Homo sapiens: one gene and its partners. The protein of the gene in region 3 purifies or fractionates together with the protein of the main gene of each other region. This does not show direct contact. Each region holds a gene or a part of one and is shown on either strand. Other genes may lie near its edges.

Evidence for each region. Proteins that work in one complex are often made in the same cells at the same time.
Region 1: the proteins of SERPING1 (region 3) and PLAT purify together in Homo sapiens (affinity purification with mass spectrometry; 2 studies listed by BioGRID and IntAct, with this or other methods). This does not show direct contact.
Region 2: the proteins of SERPING1 (region 3) and ARFGAP2 purify together in Homo sapiens (affinity purification with mass spectrometry; 2 studies listed by BioGRID and IntAct, with this or other methods). This does not show direct contact.

The regions. Positions count from the first base shown.
Region 1 is NC_000008.11:42,176,547-42,183,572, reverse strand, and holds part of PLAT (tissue-type plasminogen activator isoform 1 preproprotein), read left to right. Parts: intron 1-682; coding exon 683-854; intron 855-1,550; coding exon 1,551-1,636; intron 1,637-2,887; coding exon 2,888-3,083; intron 3,084-3,194; coding exon 3,195-3,331; intron 3,332-3,506; coding exon 3,507-3,647; intron 3,648-4,509; coding exon 4,510-4,676; intron 4,677-7,026. UniProt on the Homo sapiens protein: Converts the abundant, but inactive, zymogen plasminogen to plasmin by hydrolyzing a single Arg-Val bond in plasminogen.
Region 2 is NC_000011.10:47,166,861-47,173,886, forward strand, and holds part of ARFGAP2 (ADP-ribosylation factor GTPase-activating protein 2), read right to left. Parts: coding exon of another isoform or gene 6,981-7,026; coding exon 6,899-6,980; intron 6,623-6,898; coding exon 6,566-6,622; intron 5,892-6,565; coding exon of another isoform or gene 5,850-5,891; intron 5,474-5,849; coding exon 5,421-5,473; intron 4,941-5,420; coding exon 4,804-4,940; intron 4,698-4,803; coding exon 4,566-4,697; intron 1,392-4,565; coding exon 1,263-1,391; intron 1,184-1,262; coding exon 1,049-1,183; intron 27-1,048; coding exon 1-26.
Region 3 is NC_000011.10:57,607,659-57,614,684, forward strand, and holds part of SERPING1 (plasma protease C1 inhibitor precursor), read left to right. Parts: intron 1-4,058; coding exon 4,059-4,278; intron 4,279-6,669; coding exon 6,670-6,923; 3' UTR 6,924-7,026. UniProt on the Homo sapiens protein: Serine protease inhibitor, which acrs as a regulator of the classical complement pathway. Forms a proteolytically inactive stoichiometric complex with the C1r or C1s proteases. May also regulate blood coagulation, fibrinolysis and the generation of kinins.

The DNA of each region.
Region 1 (7,026 bases), on a different chromosome or scaffold from region 3:
GCAGACACAGTCCGAGAAATAACCCCCACCCCAGCCCCACTGAAGCACGTTGGTTCACTGCAGCCTGTTAAGTAACACAAGGAAACCCCTACTGGCTTTCAAAGCAGCTTCAGAAACAGCCCCCACTCATGGAAGTGGTTCTTCCTGCTGAACCTGAAGATGTCCCCAGACTCTCTCTCAACATAGCAATCTAGGGAGCCACTTCCGGTGGAGATGAAACCCCCTTGCCATCTCTAAGTAAAAGGACTCAAAGAGGGGGAAAAAGGCTCAGGCCGGGCGTGTTGGCTCACACCTGTACTCCCAGCACTTTGGGAGGCTGAGGCGGGCAGATCACCTGATGTTAGGAGTTCAAGACCAGCCTGGCCAACATGGTGAAACCCTGTCTCAACTAAAAATACAAAATTAGCGTAGCATGGTGGCGCATGCCTGTAACCCCACCTACTCGGGAGGCTGAGGTAGAAGAATCGCTTGAACCCAGGAGGTGGAGATTGCAGTGAGCCAAGATCGCGCATTGCACTCCAGCCTGGGCAACAAAAGGGGAAGTGTGAGGTGTTACACTCTTCTCAGTGCCGGGCTAGCGGCCTCCAGCTTCCTCGACCGGCAGCTCCGCTTCAAGCCCCAGCCCTGACTTGCGTGCTTCAGAATTTGTTTTTGTTTCAGTTTGAGAATTCTTTTCTTCTAGGAAACAGTGACTGCTACTTTGGGAATGGGTCAGCCTACCGTGGCACGCACAGCCTCACCGAGTCGGGTGCCTCCTGCCTCCCGTGGAATTCCATGATCCTGATAGGCAAGGTTTACACAGCACAGAACCCCAGTGCCCAGGCACTGGGCCTGGGCAAACATAATTACTGCCGGTAGGTAGCACAGGGGTGGGGGGTTCAGGTCTTGGCAGAACGTGGGATTAGGGTGTGAGACGGGGGAAGATCCAATGTCTCAAGTTGCATGACAGACCCAGTGCGTGGGAAGCACCCATGGATATTATCTAATCCAACCTCTTCACTTGCTAGAATAACACATATTGTGAAAAGCAAGGTCTACCAGTTTTCCAACCTAAATCCCAAGTTAAGGGTCCTGGCCTGTAACCATTTAGTCCTCAGCTGTTCTCCTGACATCTTTATTGCAATGATTTGTAAGAGTTCCGTAACAGGACAGCTCACAGTTCTGTCTGACAACCCTATGAGATTAGAACACTACATTACTGACTGGGTAACAAAGTTAAAGAGAAGTTCTCCTAGGGTGGGGGTGTGCTGCAAGGTCAAGATGAACTCGGTGTCCTCCCTCCCAGCTCAGTGGTTTTCATTGGTTGACTGAGTCTCCTTCTACTCTTACATGGCCTGTGATGTGGCTGAAAATGGGATTGAAAATCTTAAACTCCTGGCCTGGTGTGGTGGTGCATGCCTGTAATCCCAGCACTTTGGGAGGCTGAGGCAGGAGGATTGCTTGAGCCCAGGAGTTCAAGACCAGCCTGGGCAACATGGCAAGACCCCATCTCTACAAAAATTAAAAAATAAGAAGATAAAAAGGAAACCTTAAACTCTCTTATCATTTAGGAATCCTGATGGGGATGCCAAGCCCTGGTGCCACGTGCTGAAGAACCGCAGGCTGACGTGGGAGTACTGTGATGTGCCCTCCTGCTGTAAGGGCTGGGCCCCGGCTGCCTCCCTGCACCTGGTCTCCCTTCTTCACCATCTCCTCGCCACTTTCTAGGCCTTCATGGCTGTCTGGTGCAGACTGTGTGCCTACCAGACTTCCAGGCTGGGTGGGGAGGGGGCTTCCATGACTGAAGCCACGGTGGGTGGGCGGGTGTCCATGACCCATGCATGGGGGTGGTGGGGAGGGGCAAGAAGAAAGAAAAGAACACAGCAACCTCTCTGAGAAGTCAGTAGGCTCTACCCGGCTCTCTCTAGACGCCTCTATTGGTGTTGCTGAGAGTAATGGGGAATGAGGAGGAGGCCTCGCATGCATGGCTCCTTAGATAATAAAGTGCCTTCACCACATTTGTCCAACAGCGTGGTGGAGGTGGTCTTCCTACCTCCAGTTTACTGAGTAGGAAGCAGTCTCCCAGACGCCAGGTGGCCTGCCCAAGCTCGCTGGGCACCGGGAGGTAAAGCTAGGGCCTGCCCTCATGCCCTCTGACCCCAATGGCATGTACTTCCACTGTGAGATCTTCCACGTTTCCTGTTGACCTATTTCACACAGGGGAGCTGGCTCATGATGTGGGTGAGAGATAGGAGATTCAAGTTGGTGCATATTGCTAAAAAATGAAACTTTAGTTTGGAAATGGCCAGAGAGTAGGTTATTAATCACCTCCTGTGAACACAGATCAGCCAGAATGTTCCCCAAGGAACACAAGTCCAACTGGGACGATGAGACACAGACCACCAGCTAACTCACACCCAAGGGCATTAGTGTGAGTCCTCAGTGGTCCGTGTCCCTAAGCTCCTCAGAGCTGAGCAGGTGGGGACGTCAGGAAAGCTTTGCGAGGAGGCAGGATTGCACCTGGGCCTTGAAGCATGGGTAAGGTTGGACAGATGGAAAAGAAATGAGCAGACATTCCACAGAAGGAAGCTGCAATTCTTCATTTCTTAGGCCAGGAAATGGCTGTAGGAAAACATTAGAAGGAATGAAGGATGGCAGATCCCCAGTTTTGGAGTCAAACATACTTGGGAACTAATCCAGGTGCCATTGCAACCTTGGGCAAAAACGTCTCCGCCTCCTGAAACTTATCGCTGTGGGAACTAAAGAGAATGTATGGACAACATTCGGCATGCTGATCCCACCAAGTGAAAGTTGTGGTTTTACAGCCATGCTGATGGCCTCCTCACTCTACCTACACACGTGCAGGAGGCCTGTGGGACTGACTGCCTCCTCGTCCTTTCCTCCCCAGCCACCTGCGGCCTGAGACAGTACAGCCAGCCTCAGTTTCGCATCAAAGGAGGGCTCTTCGCCGACATCGCCTCCCACCCCTGGCAGGCTGCCATCTTTGCCAAGCACAGGAGGTCGCCCGGAGAGCGGTTCCTGTGCGGGGGCATACTCATCAGCTCCTGCTGGATTCTCTCTGCCGCCCACTGCTTCCAGGAGAGGTAGGGGCTCGGAAACCCAGTTGGTTTTTCCACCCTCTAACGCCTAGAAACCAAGCCCTTTAGGGGAAATCCCACAGCAAAAAAAGCATTCTAAGGCTGTTTCTCCACCAGGTTTCCGCCCCACCACCTGACGGTGATCTTGGGCAGAACATACCGGGTGGTCCCTGGCGAGGAGGAGCAGAAATTTGAAGTCGAAAAATACATTGTCCATAAGGAATTCGATGATGACACTTACGACAATGACATTGGTAAGAGCTCGTCATTCCCGGCTCCAGTTCATACAGATCACACAACACACCCACATGCACTCACCTATGTTTACACACACGGGCCTCCTCCTCCAGCCCCTGCCCCTCCTGCGTGTTCCTCCCCTCCCGGGGACGCGGCCCTCACGCCAGCTCACTCCTCCTTTCTCCCTCCCAGCGCTGCTGCAGCTGAAATCGGATTCGTCCCGCTGTGCCCAGGAGAGCAGCGTGGTCCGCACTGTGTGCCTTCCCCCGGCGGACCTGCAGCTGCCGGACTGGACGGAGTGTGAGCTCTCCGGCTACGGCAAGCATGAGGCCTGTAAGTGGAAGGAAGTCTCGGCCCCATCCTGTCTGCGGGACAGCAGGGGAGGCTGCGGTCCACCAGAGGAAAATGGGGTCAGGAGACCGAAGTTCCAGCCCCGGGTCAGGCACTGACGCCAGTCCCGTCTCCCTGTGTCGTGGGGGCCCGTCTCTGCTGTCTCTGCCTCACAGGGACACTGCAGGCCAGGAAAGGACACAACAGTATGAGGGCCTCGAAGTGCTGCAGGTGTTGGGAAGGTTCTGAGTAGGAAGTGGAGTACAGTCGCTAAGCGTGTGGGTTCTGGGAAGCTGGAGTTACAAAGACCCGATTTCAAATCCCACTTGCTGAGCTGTGTGACCGTGGACATGGATTTTTATTTTGAACTGCTCCCAGCCTCAGTTTCCTCGTTGGTAAAGTGGAGATAGAACTATCTCCCTAATTAGATTAGGAGGGTTAAATGAGATAATATTGAACGAATGGATGTCAGCTGGGGTGATTTTGTCCCCCAGGAAACGTTTGGCGAGGTCTGGAGACGTTTTTGGTTGTTACAGTTTAGGGTGAGGGTTAACGCCGGCCTTCAGTGAGTGCAGCCAGGGATGCTGCACACTGCAGGGCTCGGGACTGTCCCCATCCCCCACAACAGGGACCTCCCTGGTCCGAAGCATCAGCAGTGCCACTACGGAGAGGCTGTGGGTTCAATCCCGGAATCCTGCTGTTTTTGTGGGTCAAAACGATAAAATACCAGCAGTGTCATAGGATTCGACCTAATACATGTTGAATCTTGATCAATGTTAGCTATTATTGGAAAATTTGGCTTTCTCTTTCAAAAACGTTTATAAATAACTTTCCCTAAAACCATATGATGGTTCTCCCCTTTCAGTGTCTCCTTTCTATTCGGAGCGGCTGAAGGAGGCTCATGTCAGACTGTACCCATCCAGCCGCTGCACATCACAACATTTACTTAACAGAACAGTCACCGACAACATGCTGTGTGCTGGAGACACTCGGAGCGGCGGGCCCCAGGCAAACTTGCACGACGCCTGCCAGGTAACCAGGAGTGGCGCGCCCATGCTGGGCACAACCCAGGGGAGAATGCCCCTGGGACAACAGGTTCTTCACCAAAGAAAAAAGTTATCACCAGAGTGGAGTGATTTCCTCTTAGTGATACCCCTGGGGATTCTAGATGAGGGCCTCACAGAATAAAGCAACTGGAGGAAGATCAAAGTCACCTAAACCTAAGAATTCTAAACTGCAGGAAATTTCCCCAGGATCTGCACAGGCAACTCCACCTGTACAGGATTTCCTTTCAGCCCAGGCAATTGATTGACTATTGAAGTGATGGAGAGAGCCACACAATTAAGAAACGTTTGCCTCAGCCTGGTGTGGTGGTTCACGCCTGTAATCCCAGCACTTTGGGAGGCTGAGGTGGGAGGCTCACCTGAGGTCAGGAGTTCGAGACCAGCCTGACCAACATGGAGAAACCCCATCTCTACTAAAAATACAAAATTAGCCTGGCATGGTGGCACATGCCTGTAATCCCAGCTACTCAGGAGGCTGAGGCAGGAGAATCGCTTGAACCCGGGAGGCAGAGGTTGCAGTGAGCCGAGATCGCGCCATTGCGCTTCAGCCTGGGCAACAAGAGCGAAACTCGATCTCAAAAAAAAAAAAAAAAAAAAAAAGAAAGAAATGTTTGCCTCTGTTGGCACTAGAGAATTGGAGTCTGCTTTGTAGAAGGAGAAGGAAGAAAGGCAACTTACTGGGAAGCAGGATCTAGATGATGTGAGAAAGAAGTTTTCAAAACTCACATTCAGCCCTAATACCCTGGGAAAGCACACTATTTGAGGTCCTTTGTGTGGGCATCCTTATCAGAATTAGTACTTATATTTCATGATTAGCCAGATACTGGGGTATGGGAGGACAGGCCAGCCTGCTGGTATTAAGACCTGCACAGAGCCAAGGAATTGATCTTCCTCAGACATTTCAGTGCCTGCAGCGTGCGAAGCTCTCCTTTAGGGGCTGGGGGTAGAAGAGATACAAAGAGAAGTGAGGCCAGGCTCTGGTGCTGAAGGATGTGTGGGCTTTGTTTTCGCAAGGCAGTCATATCGGCGGTTTCCCCTCTGATTCCCTGACAGGATTTAGTTTCTTTTTGAATGGTTTCTTCAGCAACCTCAGCTGTACCAGCTTACAGTCCAGAAACAAAAAGGTTGTACCAAAGTGAAACCATTATCTATCTGCAAGCTTAGTTAAAAGCAAAACCAAATCATTTTAATTCAATATAAGAACAGCTAACAATTACCAAGAGTTTTACTAGATGTCTTCCAGTGCTTTTCATGCATTCTTCTACTGAATGCCATAACCACTCTATGGGTAGTATGAATATTATCTCTATGGTACAGATAAGAAAACCAAAGCATGGTTAGTCTAAGGCCATCAGCTAGTAAGTGATGGAGCCAAGCCAGGGTTTTTGAGGCCTGAAACGTTTGAGTAATTAACTCTACTTTACCAGAATAGATACAGCCTAATCCTCCATGGGACCAAGATAACTGAGATACAATCTACCCACTCTTCAGTAAGTCTCCACTTAACAGCATGCCTGGAAAAAATAGGTTCTTAGAAACTGCAACTGTAAGTGAAATGACGTATAACAAAACCAATTTTACCACCAGCTAATTGATATAAACAAGAGTTGGTCAGGTGCGGGGCTCATGCCTGTAATCCCAGCACTTTGAGAGGCTGAGGAAGGCAGATCACCTGAGGTCAGGAGTTCGAGACCAGCCTGGCCACCATGGTGAAACCCTGCCTCTACTAAAAACACAAAAATTAGCCAGGTGTGGTGGTGCGTGCCCATAAGCACGAGAATTGCTTGAACCCCGGAGGTGGAGGGTGCAGTGAGCTGAGATTGCGCCACTGCACTCCAGCCTGGGTGGGTGACAGAGTGAGACTCTGTCTCAAAACAAAAAAACAAAAAAAAACAAAAAAAGAAGAGTGAAGTTCTTGTGGCAATATTTCTAGTCATAAAAACATCAGCAAACTTCTAAATAAAGACCCAAAACACTTCTAACATTCAATATTGAAATAAATGTGAGCTATACAACATTTAAGAAAGGTTAATAAAAACAAACATGGTATTTATTTACCCAATTTTTGGAGAATAAGTGAATGATGGCGGCCATAATAGTGGTGGGTTAATTCAGGGAATAAATGTTTGCAAAGCAAAAATGGTAAGGAACACCTCTTACTACCATGAAGTTCAAAAACAATCACAAATAGGGCAGGCTCCCTGACTGCCTCCACACCTCACAGTTTATCATGCATTCGTGTATTTAGCACAGACTAGACAGATTTTTACTTTATAACACTTTGTATTCATTCATTTTCCAACGTGCTTATTCCGGTT
Region 2 (7,026 bases), about 10 Mb from region 3:
TCTCCACTTCCCTCCGGTTTGTGGCTCTGAGGGGAAGATGTGGAATATCTCGGACTCCTCCCATTATCATCAGGGGAGGCAGAGTACAGAGGCCAAACAGAGCACCAGTGGCCTTTTGGTGATGGGTTACCAGGTCCCATTCTGTCTGTGGCTCTGTGGCTCTGGGCCCCTCTCCCCTGGTGAGGAGTCACCCTTCTCCACATTGAGGCCAAGGCCCAGAGAGCTTAGGAACCTGCACTAGGCAGGGTGGAAATACAGCCTGCAGTGGCCTAGGCTCCTGCCCAAAAGCACACAGCTTCGTCAGCATTCAGGAGGCCACACAACTGCTGCTACCCTAATCCTAGTGACAACTTGCCTAGTACTACAATGAGCATATGTGTCGGTCTGCCTGGCTTTATACCTACTCTTGTCATAACTATGAATAGCAAACTGCCCCCTTTACTCTCAAAAGCATCCTGGTGTGGAAAGGGAGATGGTTGCTCTCATCTCACGCTGAGTATGTGGACACTGGGCCAGGTATTTCCGGAGACCCTATGAAGTAGTTACGTTCCCATTTTATACGGGGATAACTCACAGATATTATGTCAACTAAACAGATCCCAGATTAAGATGGAGTAGGGTTTTAAAAAATAAGAAGGGGGCTGGAGACATAAAACCCCTGAAAGGAGGTCAGGACTGAAGCATACAATCAGGCTCCTCCGGCCAGAGAAATGGACCCCAAGCAAAAGAAGCTGCCAGGCCCTCTATGATGACAAAGCACAACTCAAACCGAAGCCTGACTGCTGCCCTGTCTAATGAGGCAGGCACCAGCCACTGGTGGCTATTTACGTTTATCAGAAATTAAACTACATCAGAAATTGTTGCTCAGTTGCACCAACCACATTTTAAGGGCTCATAGCCACATAGTAGTGGCTACCATATTAAACAACACAGAGAACATTCCCATCAACACAGAAAGTTCTTCTAGACAGTGCTGCCTTAGAATTCTCTACCTTCAGCTTGTTTAAAAAAAAAAAAGAAAGAAAAAAGAAAAAACAGCCCACTCTACCTTTCTGAAATAGGCCGGATGCTTGAGATGGTCACTTCTGGCTCCTTCTCCTCTACCCTGTCCATACCCCAGGCAGCATCTGTATCCCAGCGGGAGCCAAAGCTTTCCCCTAAGGAAAAGGGATTGTCCTTGTACCTAGGGAGACAGTAGAGTGGCTCAGAGAAGCCTGATGAGGAACACAGCAGCCAAGTTTACAGCTAGAAAACAGCCTTACTTTGGGGGTCCAGAGGCGAAAGTACCAACATCGTCAAACAAGTCCAGCTGCGAGCGAGAGGATTTTGCACTCACTGGGGTTTCCTGCTCAATCACCTGCATCTCAGACAGCACGGAGTGGGAGACAGAGCTGCGCAGCAAAGCAGAGCCAGGCATGAGACCAAAGGATAGGCATCAGCATCACCGCACAAGAGACAATGCCCAGCAACTGGGTTCTCCTTCACGGAGCGTCACCCAGAGCCTTCTGTCCTTACCCAAGCACAGGGCTGGGCCAGACCCCAACAGAAGGCTAGCTGTGTGTGGTGACCTGTGAAGCACACCTCAGAATTCTTTACACATCAGCTTTGTTTATTCCACGTAGGAGTTCCCTGGCCAGTGACGGTTTGCCTGTTATAATTTAATTTTATTTATTTATTTGAGACAGATTCTCACTCTGTCGCCCAGGCTGGAGTCCAGTGGTGCAATCTTGGCTCACTGCAACCACCACCTCCCAGGTTCAAGCGATTCTTGTGCCTCAGCCTCCCGAGCAGCTGGGACTACAGTGCACGTCACCACACCCAGCTGATTTTTTGTGTTTTTTCAGTAGAGACAGGGTTTCGCCACATTGCCCAGCCTGGTCTCAAACTCCTGAGTACAGACAATCCACCCGCCTTGGCCTCCAAAAGTGCCAGGATTATAGGCGTGAGCCACTGTGCCTGGCTCGTGTTGTAATTTTAATATTGTGCACCAGATGCCAGTGGTCTCTGTCCTGAACAACTCCCTACCTTGTGCACTATGAACCCCATCCTTCACTGATGGGGTTCACAAAGCAAAGGAATGGATGAAGAAATGCCCCAGCACCAGGGAAATGAACATAACTGCATCAAAGAATGAGTTCTTCATCATCCTACTCTTTATTAAAAAAAAAAAAAGCCAGGCACCGTGGCTCACACCTGTAATTCCAGCACTTTGGGAGGCCGAGGCGGGCAGATCACGAGGTCAGGAGATCGAGACCATCCTGGCTAACATGGTGAAACCCCGTCTCTACTAAAAATACAAAAAAATTAGCCGGGCATGGTGGCAGGTGCCTGTAGTCCCAGCTACTTGGGAGGCTGAGGCAGGAGAATGACGTGAACTTGGGGGGCGGAGCTTGCAGTGAGCCGAGATCGCACCACTGCACTCCAGTCTGGGCAACAGAGCGAGGCTCCGTCTCAGAGAGAAAAAAAAAAGCACCTCAAAGCACAAAGACTGGCCTTATGCACTAAGACCTAGAATTGCTGTCTCGTTTCTCAAAGAAAAGGGGTCTAGGGTTGGCAGGCAATACAATACAACTCTTGATGCCTCTCATTCCTCTGTCAGGCTCCACAAGGACACTTTAAGGACTAATTTGATTTAAATCAATTCATTAAAAAATATCTATAGCTTTTAGCTAGAAGAACCCCAAGGAGTGATTATTTTGCAATAGGGCTGAGTTGGGCCGGGCATGGTGGCTCACACCTGTAATCCCAGCACTTTGGGAGGCCGAGGCAGCCGGATCACCTGAGGTCGGGAGTTCGAGACCAGCCTGACCAAGACGGAGAAACCCTGTCTCTACTAAAAATACAAAATTAGCCAGGTGTGGAGGCTGAGGCAAGAGAATAGCTTGAACCCCGGAGGCGGAGGTTGTGGTGAGCTGAGATCACACCATTGCACTCCAGCCTAGGCAACGAGATTGAAACTCTGTCTCAAATAAATAAATAGGGTGAGTTGGGTTTAAGTAAACAATTGTTGCACTGCTAAAAAACTGTTCATATGCCTTAACCCCTTGGTCATCCCTTAACCCAGTCATCTATTAACCCAGTCATTCCTATGTGACTGAAGCAGGGAAAGGAGGGAGACCCAATGTCCTTTCAAGTTAAAATGTTATGCTCTGGCTGGATGTGGCTCACGCCCGTAATCCAAGCACTGGGCGCCGTGGCTCACACCGGTAATCCCAGTACTGTGGGAGGCCGAGGCGGGCAGATCATTTGAAGCTAGTAGTTTTACACCAGCCTGGGCAACATGGTGAAACCCCATCTCTACTAAAATACAAAAATAAGCTGGGCATGGTGGCACATGCCTGTAATCACAGCTTCTCAGGAGGCTGAGGCAGGAGAATTGCTTGAATCTGGGAGGCGGAGGCTGCAGTGGGCTGAGATCACACCACTGAACTCCAGCCTGGGTGACAGAGCAAGACTCCATCTCAAAAAAAAAAAAAAAAAAAAGAAAAGAAAAGAAAAAAGAAAGCCGGGCACCGTGGCTCATGCCTGTAATCCCAGCACTTTGGGAGGCTGAGGCAGGTGGATCACTTGAGGTCAAGAGTTCGACATCAGCCTGGCCAACATGGTGAAACCCCATCTCTACTAAAAATACAAAAAATTAGCCAGACACGGTGGTACACACCTGTAATCCCAGCTGCTTGGGAGGCTGAGACAGGAGAATCACTTGAACCCAGGAGGTAGAGATTGCAGTGAGCCAAGATCGTGCCATTGCACTCCAGCCTGGGTGACAGAGTGAGACTTTGTCTCAAAAAATAAAAATAAAAAGCCATAGCAGCCAGACATGGTGGCTCACATCTGTAATCCCAGTACTTTGTGAAGCCAAGGTACTTAAACCCAGGAATTCGAGACCAGGCTGGACAACATAGCAAAACCCTGTCTCTACAAAAAGTAAAAAAATTAGCTGGGCATGGTGGCTCCCGGCTGTGGTCCCAGCTATTTGGGAGGCTGAAGTGGAAGGATCACCTGAGCCCAGGAGGCAGAGGTTGCAGTGAGCTGAGATCACACCATTACACTCCAGCCTAGGCAACAGAGCAAGAATCTGTCTCAAAAGAAAAAGAAAGAAAACCACAGCAAACCGAGTGGTTCTGAAACAGGAAGGATTCCACCCAAACTGAGGGCATTTGAAATGTGGGGGATATGTGAGGGTATTACAGGGAGCACAAATGGCATCTCTAGACAGGAATTAAGGATGATACTAAATGCACCGCAATTCTCAGGGAGGTCTGGAAAAATAAACTGTCCCATGACTCAAAGTGCCATCAAGAAAAACCACCCTAGTCTCTTGAAGATACTGAAATAACACCTGATCCTGTGTTTTGTTCACATACCTATTCAGTCATTCAACTTACTGAGCACATACCTACTATGCGCCAAGCACTGTATTAGGGACTTTAGAACAATAAGCCAAGTGATCTATTCAGACTTGGAGAAACAATAAGCCTAGCATCCCAAACTGCTAGGAAGGCCCCGCAATGGTTCCCAGAAAACAACGGCATTTCCCTGCCACACCCGGAGCTGAGCCTCACCTTCGGGATACCAAGCCCATGCCCAACCTTTCTGCCTGCTCTCGCTTCTTCCCTTCCAGATTCTGTAGCTTCTTTTCCTCTTTCTTACGATCAATCTGGAGCTCCTGGTAGGCCAGACGCATGGAGGCGACCCTTAGGGGGAACAAAGGTGTCAGTGGCCACCACCCATCCTGACCTGTCCAACATACCCACCCACCAAGCCCCGCAGAAGCCTGAGGCCCCGGCAGCAAACACTTACATGGACTCCTCCGCCTGCTTCTTGGCATCGGCTGCCTGCTGCTCACGGAGCTTCTCTGCCACCTGAGCCTGCCGCTCAATCTCACTGAAGCTCTGGCTGCTCACCTTCTGGGCCCCTAGGCCTTTCTTGGCACCCAGCTGGGAACAGAATCATGTAAGGGGCCTTCCCAATCACACTCTCCTCAGATCCCTCCCAGGTTCAGGCACTGTAGCCACACCCACAAGGAAAAGGCCCTTCTTAAAATTTAGGGTAAAAAACAGGAGCCCAACCAGCATGGCCAAGACAATAGTGCTCCGCTGGAGCTGGGCATGGGCGGCTCACACAGCCCCAGCAGAGCCCGGGCCTGAGGACGGCAGTTAATGCTGACAGGGCCAAGTATGTGCCAAGCACTCCGCCAAGCACTAGATGTGCTCCATCTCACCGACTCCTCCCAGCAGCCCTTGAAGACAGGCTTTAAATCCCTTTAAATCTTTAAATCCCTTTCACAGGCGAGGTTCGGAGAAACACAGTACCTTTGCCAAAGTCATATAGCTGGTAAGTGGTAAGGTCAAGGAGTGAACCCAGGTAGCCTGCACCCAGCTCCTAACCCCTCTACCATACCACCTCTCCCCACCTACCCCTTTCTTAGCTGCTGCTGGCTTCTTCTTGCCAATGATGGAGCTTTTCAGTTCTGCGTGAGAAACGGGTAGGCATGAGCTAAGACAAAGGCAGCTCAGAGGCAGTAGCTCAGTATACACCATGCAGCTTCATGGCAAGAGCTCCTAAGAACAGCTTCAGGCAAGGGAAGGCAAAGCTGCCACCACCAGCTCCAACCAGCGGTGTCAAAGCCAAAGACAGACGTGGCTGGGGTATTTACTGGCACCCAGCAGAGTGAGACAGGAACCTAGACCTGAAGCACCAGAGACGTCCGAAGCACCAGAGACGTCCAAATTCCCTGAACCAAAACAAAGACTGCGAGGCAGGGAGCATATGGTGAGCACCAGGCTCCGCTTCTAAAGCAGGAAGCTGAGAACAGGGGCTGGGCTCCCCAAGCAGCTGTCAGTTACCTCTGGCAGGAAGGGCCCCTTTAGCTGACAGATACACGGACTCTGGAGGAGAAACAGACTTGTGGCTAACAAGAGGCCCACCCCAGAGCCTCCACAGAGCTCCCAAGCCCAGCGGTCTCTATGAAGCCCTGCTTCAGACCAAGCTATGCCAGCCTTCTCATGGATCAGTCTGACAGTCACTCTGCTGGGTTCCAGCCCCAACCCCCAAGAGTCAACAGAACAAACCGAGGTCAGCAAATGGACTGTTCGCCCTGAACCAAGTCTGAAAGACACTAAGGAAAATGTAGGAAAGAGTTAAAGGACAGGCTGGGGTACTGGCTGAGAAAGAACAATGTCACCTCCAGCCTTCGGCAGCTCAGAGCTGTCCCTCCACCCCCGGAAATGCACCAGACAAGCCAGCCCTGCCTCAGAGCCCAGGGATAGGTGTCCAGTCTCATGCTGGCCTCCCCAACACTTTGGCTAGACCCAGCCCCACACTCAGAGGCAGACCCCAGGCCTTATACACCAGCCCACCCAGATTCATCAATTCAAAGGGCTTGGCTCTAAAATCAGTGTTGCATCCACTATTTCAATCACAGTCCCCACTCCAGAGAATCAGATAGATGCTCAGTCTCCTGTGGCCTCTGTCCACACGGCCAGGCAGTAGGACCTCTGAAAAGAACATTTGAGGTCCACCCTCTCCCAGACACCCCACGCCTGCCCGCTGGCATACTGACCCAGTGAGGCTTTGGGTGAGGTGCCAAGCAGGTCTGTGTTGGGGCCATGCTCCGGCTCTGTGGATGCAATGGTAGGAGTTAGAGATGAGCTCCTAGCTTCCTGCAACCTCCCCTTGAAAGAAGTGATGGGACAAGAATCGGTGGCTTTCCTCAGCTTGCCACCAAAAGATAAAAGGAATATCTACCACTTCCTCCAAGGATTAAAATGAATCCCGGCCCACCCAAAGATACAGGAGGACCCCTGCTCCTATTGTCATGGCCAGATGTCCCCTTCCAAACCCTGAGTCCTCTCCTAGGACCAGGGCACCTGGTTGGAATCTGGGCTGAACTCACGTGCCAGGCCACTGCTCTCTGTAGACGGGGCTGGCTGCTGGGTCCCTGAAGGCTCAGTGGCTGGCGCATCCCAGGCAGGGGGCTGAAAAGGAGGCCAGATCACAGATGCCTCGGTGAGCCACTCCTGC
Region 3 (7,026 bases):
ATAGAGGAGGGTTTTTTTCGAGACAGGGTCTCACTCTGTCACTCAAGCTGCAGTGCATTGACATGATCTCAGCTCACTGCAATCTCTGCCTCCCGAGTTCAAGCAGTTCTCCTGCCTCAGCCTCCCAAGTAGCTGGGACTACAGGAGCCCGCCACCACACCTGGCTAATTTTTGTATTTTTAGTAGAGACGGGGTTTCACCATGTTAGCCAAGCTGGTCTCGAACTCCTGACCTCAAGTGATCCACACCCTCAGCCTCCCAAAGGGCTGGGATTACAGGCATGAGCCACAGCGCCCAGCTGAGGAGGTTATTTTTGACCATTCTTTGCTCAGTTATTTATCCACTCATGGACTTATCCACCCATCTATCCATCCCTATCTAATGTATTTGACCATTCATGACTCATTTAGCAGAACCAGGACAGCCTGTATAAGGCACAGAAGAGTGAATATATGTGACAGGTCCAGAGCATTGTTCAAATTCAAGATACGTTGGGGGAGGTATAAATATGAGATTTTTTTCAAATCAATTGGAATGGCTATTTAATCAAAGCCATAGATGTTAGGTGGAAAGTAGGAATTAAGAACTTAACAAGTTAGGTTTAAATGTAACTATTCGAATTATAAGAACAAGTATTTCCTCTCTAAAAATGTTTTTAAAGTTTCACACAAAACTCTAAACCAAAAATCATTGTAAAAATCCCTTGGGAGTAGACTGTTGAAACCATTGAGGTGAGGTGATAGGTTAAGGTGAGCATTCTGGACATATAATATCAATAATAAATATTCAAATACAAAGCAGGTATAATATGAAGAGTAATTTCTATCTCCCCAAGCCAATATGAGTTTTGTTTGTTTGTTTGTTTTTCTTTTGAGATAAAGTCTCATTCTGTTGCCCAGGCCGGAGTGCAGTGGCACAATCCCAGCTCTCTGTAACCTCTGCCTCCCAGGTTCAAGCGATTCTCCTGCCTTAGCCTCCCTAGTAGCTGGGATTATAGGTGCCTGCCACCACTCCCAGCTAATTTTTGTATTTTTAGTAGAGATGGGGTTTCACCATGTTGGCCAGGCTGGTCATGAACTCCTGACCTCAAGTGCTCGTCCGTCTTCGGCCTCCTAAAGTGCTGGCATTACAGGCGTGAGCCACTGCACCCAGCCTGAGTTTTTTTTTTTTTTTTAAGCCAAAGGAGGAGGAGTAGTTTTGTGCACAAAAGCCACTATTTAGAGTTCCTTAGGTTTTAAACAGATAATTAATTTAATGTACTAACAAATGCAAAATTAAAATTTTACTTATGCCTTTTAATTTTAAGCTGAACTTGCTACATTAAGAGTAGGGTGATTTGGCTGGGCGCAGTGGCTCATGCCTATAATCCCAGCACTTTAGGAGGCTGAGGCAGGTGGATCACTTGAAGCTAAGAGTTTGAGACCAGCCTGGCCAACATGGTGGAATTCTGTCTCTACTAAAAATACAAAAATTAGCCAGGCATGGTGGCACATGTCTGTAATCCCAGCTACTCAGGATGCTAAGGCACAGAATCACTTGAACCTGGGAGGCAGAGGTTACAGTGAGCCAAAATCGCGCCACTGCACTCCAACCTGGGCAACACAGCAAGACTCTGTCTCAAAACACAAAAAAAGAATAGGCTGGGTACAGTGGCTCACGCCTGTAATCCCAGCACTTTGGGAGGCCGAGGCAGGTGAATCACCTGAGGTCAGGAGTTCGAGACCAGCTTGGCCAACATTGTGAAACCCCATCTCCATTAAAAATACAAAAAATAAGCCGGGTGTGATGGTGCACGCCTGTAATCCCAGATACTTGTGAGGCTGGGACAGAAGAATCGCTTGAACCCGGGAGGCGAAGGTTGCAGTGAGCCGAGATCATGCCACTGCATTCCAGCCTGAGCGACAGAGTGAGACCTTGTCTCAGAAAAAAAAAAATAGGGTGATTTTTATATAAAAACACTCTCATTTGTTCTTGAATTAATTGCCATATTGAACAGATTAAACTCCTTTAAACCATTTTTTCTATCTACAAACATAATTAGTATTCCCATAAGCATTTTAAGCTCCCTTTAAAAATTTAATATGCTCGATTTTCTTTTTTCTTTTATTTATTTATGTAGTTTTCCCAGACAGGGTCTTACTCTATCACCCAGTCTGGAGTACAGTGACACAATCCTCACTTACTGTAACCTCAAGCTCCTTGGGATGAAGCAGTCCTCCCACCCTAGCCTCTTAAGTAGCTGAGATTCCAGGCATGAGCCACCTCACCCAGCTGATTTTCTTTTTAAACACATCTAATACCTGACAGGTCGTAATTACGACTGTGCTTGGCCATATCATCCTAACACCTAAAGCTCACTTGTAAACTGAAAATTAAATTTGAAGGGTGAATTAACTTCTAGCCAACATTCCAATATCATTCTCACATTTAATGAAATTATCCTACAACTTTGCTTAAAAGCATAAAACTAGCATGTCAGAGTCTCTTAAAAATTACAATCACTATTTTAAATAACAAACATACAGGTTACCCTGAACTTAACACCTGGTTTTAACATGATGAAGTTGGTTTCTTTTGTCATTCTTATACTAAATTCTAAATCTTCCTGGCACTTAAGGATATTTACCCAAGGAAGGGGGTGAGATTTACCGGCTCAGGTACACCGAGGTTACTGGCTTGAAAATTCAAGACCACAGCATGGTAAATTTTTCTTCAGAGATTCAAGGTTCATACATAGGACTTGAAGGGCACATGCTACTCAAATGAGTATATCCAACTTGAGTGCTACATCAACAGGGACCCCATGTCCACTCTTTTCAGTCGAAATTGGCTTACTATCTACTTCTTCTGGGCTATTCAGGTTCCGACAATTGATTGCTTTCAGTTAATTTCTTTATTGCCCAGTTGAATTCTGCATTCTTCTAGATTCTTTTTGTTCCTTCAGCCTCAATCATAATACCATTTAATGACAGTCTCATATCCTATTAGACTAGGGTTTCTCAGCCTTGGCACTATTGACATATTGGGTCAGATAATTCTTTGTCCTGTGCATTGTAGAATTTAGCATCTTCCTTAGCTTCTACTCACTAGAAGCCAGTAGCACTGTGTGCACATCCTCCTTGCCCCCTGCCAGCTATGACAACCAAAATGTCTCCAGACATTACCAAATGTCCACTGAGAGGCAAATTCACTCCGAGTTGACAACCCCTGTATTAAACCCAGGGGCCCTGCACTTCTTACATACTTTTGTCTGGTCACCAGTTGAAAGTCCTTCTTCTTTTTTTTTTCTCTTTTTGAGATGGAGTCTCGCTCTGTCACCAGGCTGGAGTGCAGTGGCATGATCTCGGCTCACTGCAGCCTCCACCTCCCGGGTTCAAGCAATTCTCCTGCCTCAGCCTCCTGAGTAGCTGGGATTACAGGCACGTGCCACCACCCAGCTAATTTTTGTATTTTTAGTAGAGGTGGGGTTTCATCATGGTGGCCAGGATGGTCTCAATCTCTTGACCTCGTGATCCGCCCACCTCGGCCTCCCAAAGTGCTGGGATTACAGGTGTGAGCCACCGTGCATGACCAAAAGTCCTTCTAATAGCAAAGTGGAAAGGTAGGCTGTGAACAATCTTGAATGCCATACTAAGATTTGTACTTATTCTCATAGGCAGTGAAGAGCCATCAATAGTTTTTACAGAGGCTGACCTGATAACTCTGGCGGTTCAATGTGCATGCTATATACTATATGCACAACACATTAGGAAGGAAGGGAACAGCGCTCAGAGAAATCAAATCACTTGCCCATATTACATAGCTCGTCAGTGGTGGAGTCAGGGTATAATCAGAAACTCATGCTCCTTCCTCTACCTCTCCCCAGCACAGAGTTGGATCAGCACTGTTCACCCAGCTGGTATCCCCATTTCATGGTAAAGCCTGGAAGCTTAGGTCTGACTGATGCTTGTTGAAATACAGACTGTGGGAGCAGACTGCAGGACAGCATTGTGACAGAGGGTGGGGCCAGGAGAGAGATGCGGTAGGAAGACTGTTAAGATGCATCTCTTATTTTCTAGGTGGGGCAGCTGCAGCTCTCCCACAATCTGAGTTTGGTGATCCTGGTACCCCAGAACCTGAAACATCGTCTTGAAGACATGGAACAGGCTCTCAGCCCTTCTGTTTTCAAGGCCATCATGGAGAAACTGGAGATGTCCAAGTTCCAGCCCACTCTCCTAACACTACCCCGCATCAAAGTGACGACCAGCCAGGATATGCTCTCAATCATGGAGAAATTGGGTGAGCTCTGGCAGCTTAGGGTTACTCCCAGGCCATCAGAGGAGAAAGGGGGGATCCCTAAGATGTAGTTAGCATTCTCTAGAGTATTTTTTACATCCATAATCTCAGTTTGTCCTGCAACCCTGCAAGTTAGAGGGGTAGGTGCTATTATCCCATTGGATCATTGTGGAAATGGAGGCTCAGAAGCTTTATGTGACTTACCCAGAGATTCCATGATTTACCCTTGAGCTAGTCAGAGGCAAACCAGAACACCGACCCAGGTCTCCAGCTCTCCTGAGTTTTTTCTATGGTTCCTTGTGACATAGGCAGTGGAACAGTGGGACAGGTAACCGAGGTGAATTATGGATGCTCCTTCCCCAGACACATTTCAAAACAGTCAGCCACCCCGTGGAATATGCAAGAAGCTATCTGGAAGTGCAGATCTGGAGGCTTCTGAGTTTACGAGAGGCAACAGAGACTCCATTTTCTTTTTTTTTTTTTTTTTTGAGACGGAGTCTTGCTCTGTCACCCAGGACAGGCTGGAGTGCAGTGGTGCGATCTCTGCTCACTGCAAGATCCGCCTCCCAGATTCACGCCATGCCATTCTCTCGCCTCAGCCTCCCGAGTAGCTGGGACTACAGGTGCCCGCCACCACGCCTGGCTAATTTTGTTTTTGTATTTTTAGTAGAGACGGGGTTTCACTGTGTTAACCAGGATGGTCACAATCTCCGGACCTTGTGATCCACCTGCCTCGGCCTCCCAAAGTGCTGGGATTACAGGCATGAGTCACCGCGCCCAGCCCAGAGACTCCATTTTCTAACCTTTGTTTTTTTGTTTGTTTGTTTTTGAGACGGAGCCTCACTCTGTCACCCAGGCTGGAGCGCAGTGGCATGATCTTGGGTCACTGCAACCTCCGCCTCCTGGGTTCAAGTGATTCTCCTACCTCAGCCTCCCAAGTAGCTGGGATTACAGGCACCTACCACCACGCCCAGCTAATTTTTTTGTATTTTTAGTAGAGATGGGGTTTCACCATGTTGGTGAAGCTGGTCTTGAACTCCTGGGCTCAAGTGATCCACCCACCTCGGCTTCCCAAAGTGCTGGGATTACAGGTGTGAGCCACTGTGCCCAGCCTCATTTTCTAACCTTTGATCTCATGTCCAGCCCTGTCACTTCATTTCTTGTTAGAGAATTTGACCGCCTAACACATGATTCCATTTCCTTGTATATGTCATCTGTATAGGAAGAAAACCTCTTTTTTATTTTCATTCAACACTTCTGGCCACCAAACAGGTGTGGGAGTGTTTTCTAAGCAATTCTCCAGTTATCTGGGGACACCAACTGGGTGTCCTACAATTGAATCCAATTCTAACACTCTACCTGGAAATAACATCAGATCCCGTGCAGTTTAAGTGCTCCGCCCCAGCAAATTTCCCCCCGTTTCCAATGTCAGTTACAAGACTGGGTTGTCACCTGTGCATCAGACCAACCAGCTATAATTTGGAGATTCCCACAACTCCCTGCTAGGGTTTCATCATTTGCTAGAATAGCTGACAAAACTCAGGAGACACTTACATTTACTGGTTTATTATGTAAAGGATTAAGTAAAGGATACAGATGAACAGCCAGTTGAAGAGATACATAGGGCAAAATCTGGAAGGGTCCTGGGCCCAGCAGCATCTATCCTGTGGAGTTCTGTTTGCTACCTTCCTGACACATGTATGTGTTCACCAACCAGAAACTCTCAGAACCCTGTACTTTAGGAGAAGTCATCATGTAGGCATGATTGATTATTACCCAATCTCCAGCTCCTCTCTTCTCCCCAGAGGATGGAGAGAGGGGCTGAAAGTTCCAAGCTTCTAATCACACTTGGTCTTTCTGGTGACCAGCCCCAATCCAGGAGCCAGCAGGAGTAGCCTCATTAGCACAAAAGGCATTCCTATGACCCAGGAAATTCCAAGGGATCTAGTAGCTCTGTGTCAGGAACTGGGATCGGAGACCAAATATTAGATGGTCTAATATTTGGAGCTAAAGATGCTCCTATAGCATATTTTCCCATTATTTCACAGCATCATGGCATTGCATATAACCTCATTTTTTCATATATGACCTATCTCTGATCTATTACCTCACTTCCAAGGTCCTGGGAGATAAGGAGGCAATGACATCATTTTTCAGGGTTGTTTTAGGGATGAGGGGCAAGGCCTCTCACCTTGAGAGAGAGTGGCAGTGTTGGGCCCACTAATAGAGGATCCCACGAACTGCCAGAGGGTACAGTATGTAATCTGGCAAACAAGGGAAGAGGAAGAGAGCACTGGGACTCAGGATGAACCCAGAGAATTCAGGACAAAGGTCTCCATCAGCTGAGGGTATCATGCTGGCTTCTGACTCTGTTTTTCTCTGGTTTTGCCCTAGAATTCTTCGATTTTTCTTATGACCTTAACCTGTGTGGGCTGACAGAGGACCCAGATCTTCAGGTTTCTGCGATGCAGCACCAGACAGTGCTGGAACTGACAGAGACTGGGGTGGAGGCGGCTGCAGCCTCCGCCATCTCTGTGGCCCGCACCCTGCTGGTCTTTGAAGTGCAGCAGCCCTTCCTCTTCGTGCTCTGGGACCAGCAGCACAAGTTCCCTGTCTTCATGGGGCGAGTATATGACCCCAGGGCCTGAGACCTGCAGGATCAGGTTAGGGCGAGCGCTACCTCTCCAGCCTCAGCTCTCAGTTGCAGCCCTGCTGCTGCCTGCCTGGACTTGGCCCCTGCCACCTCCTGCC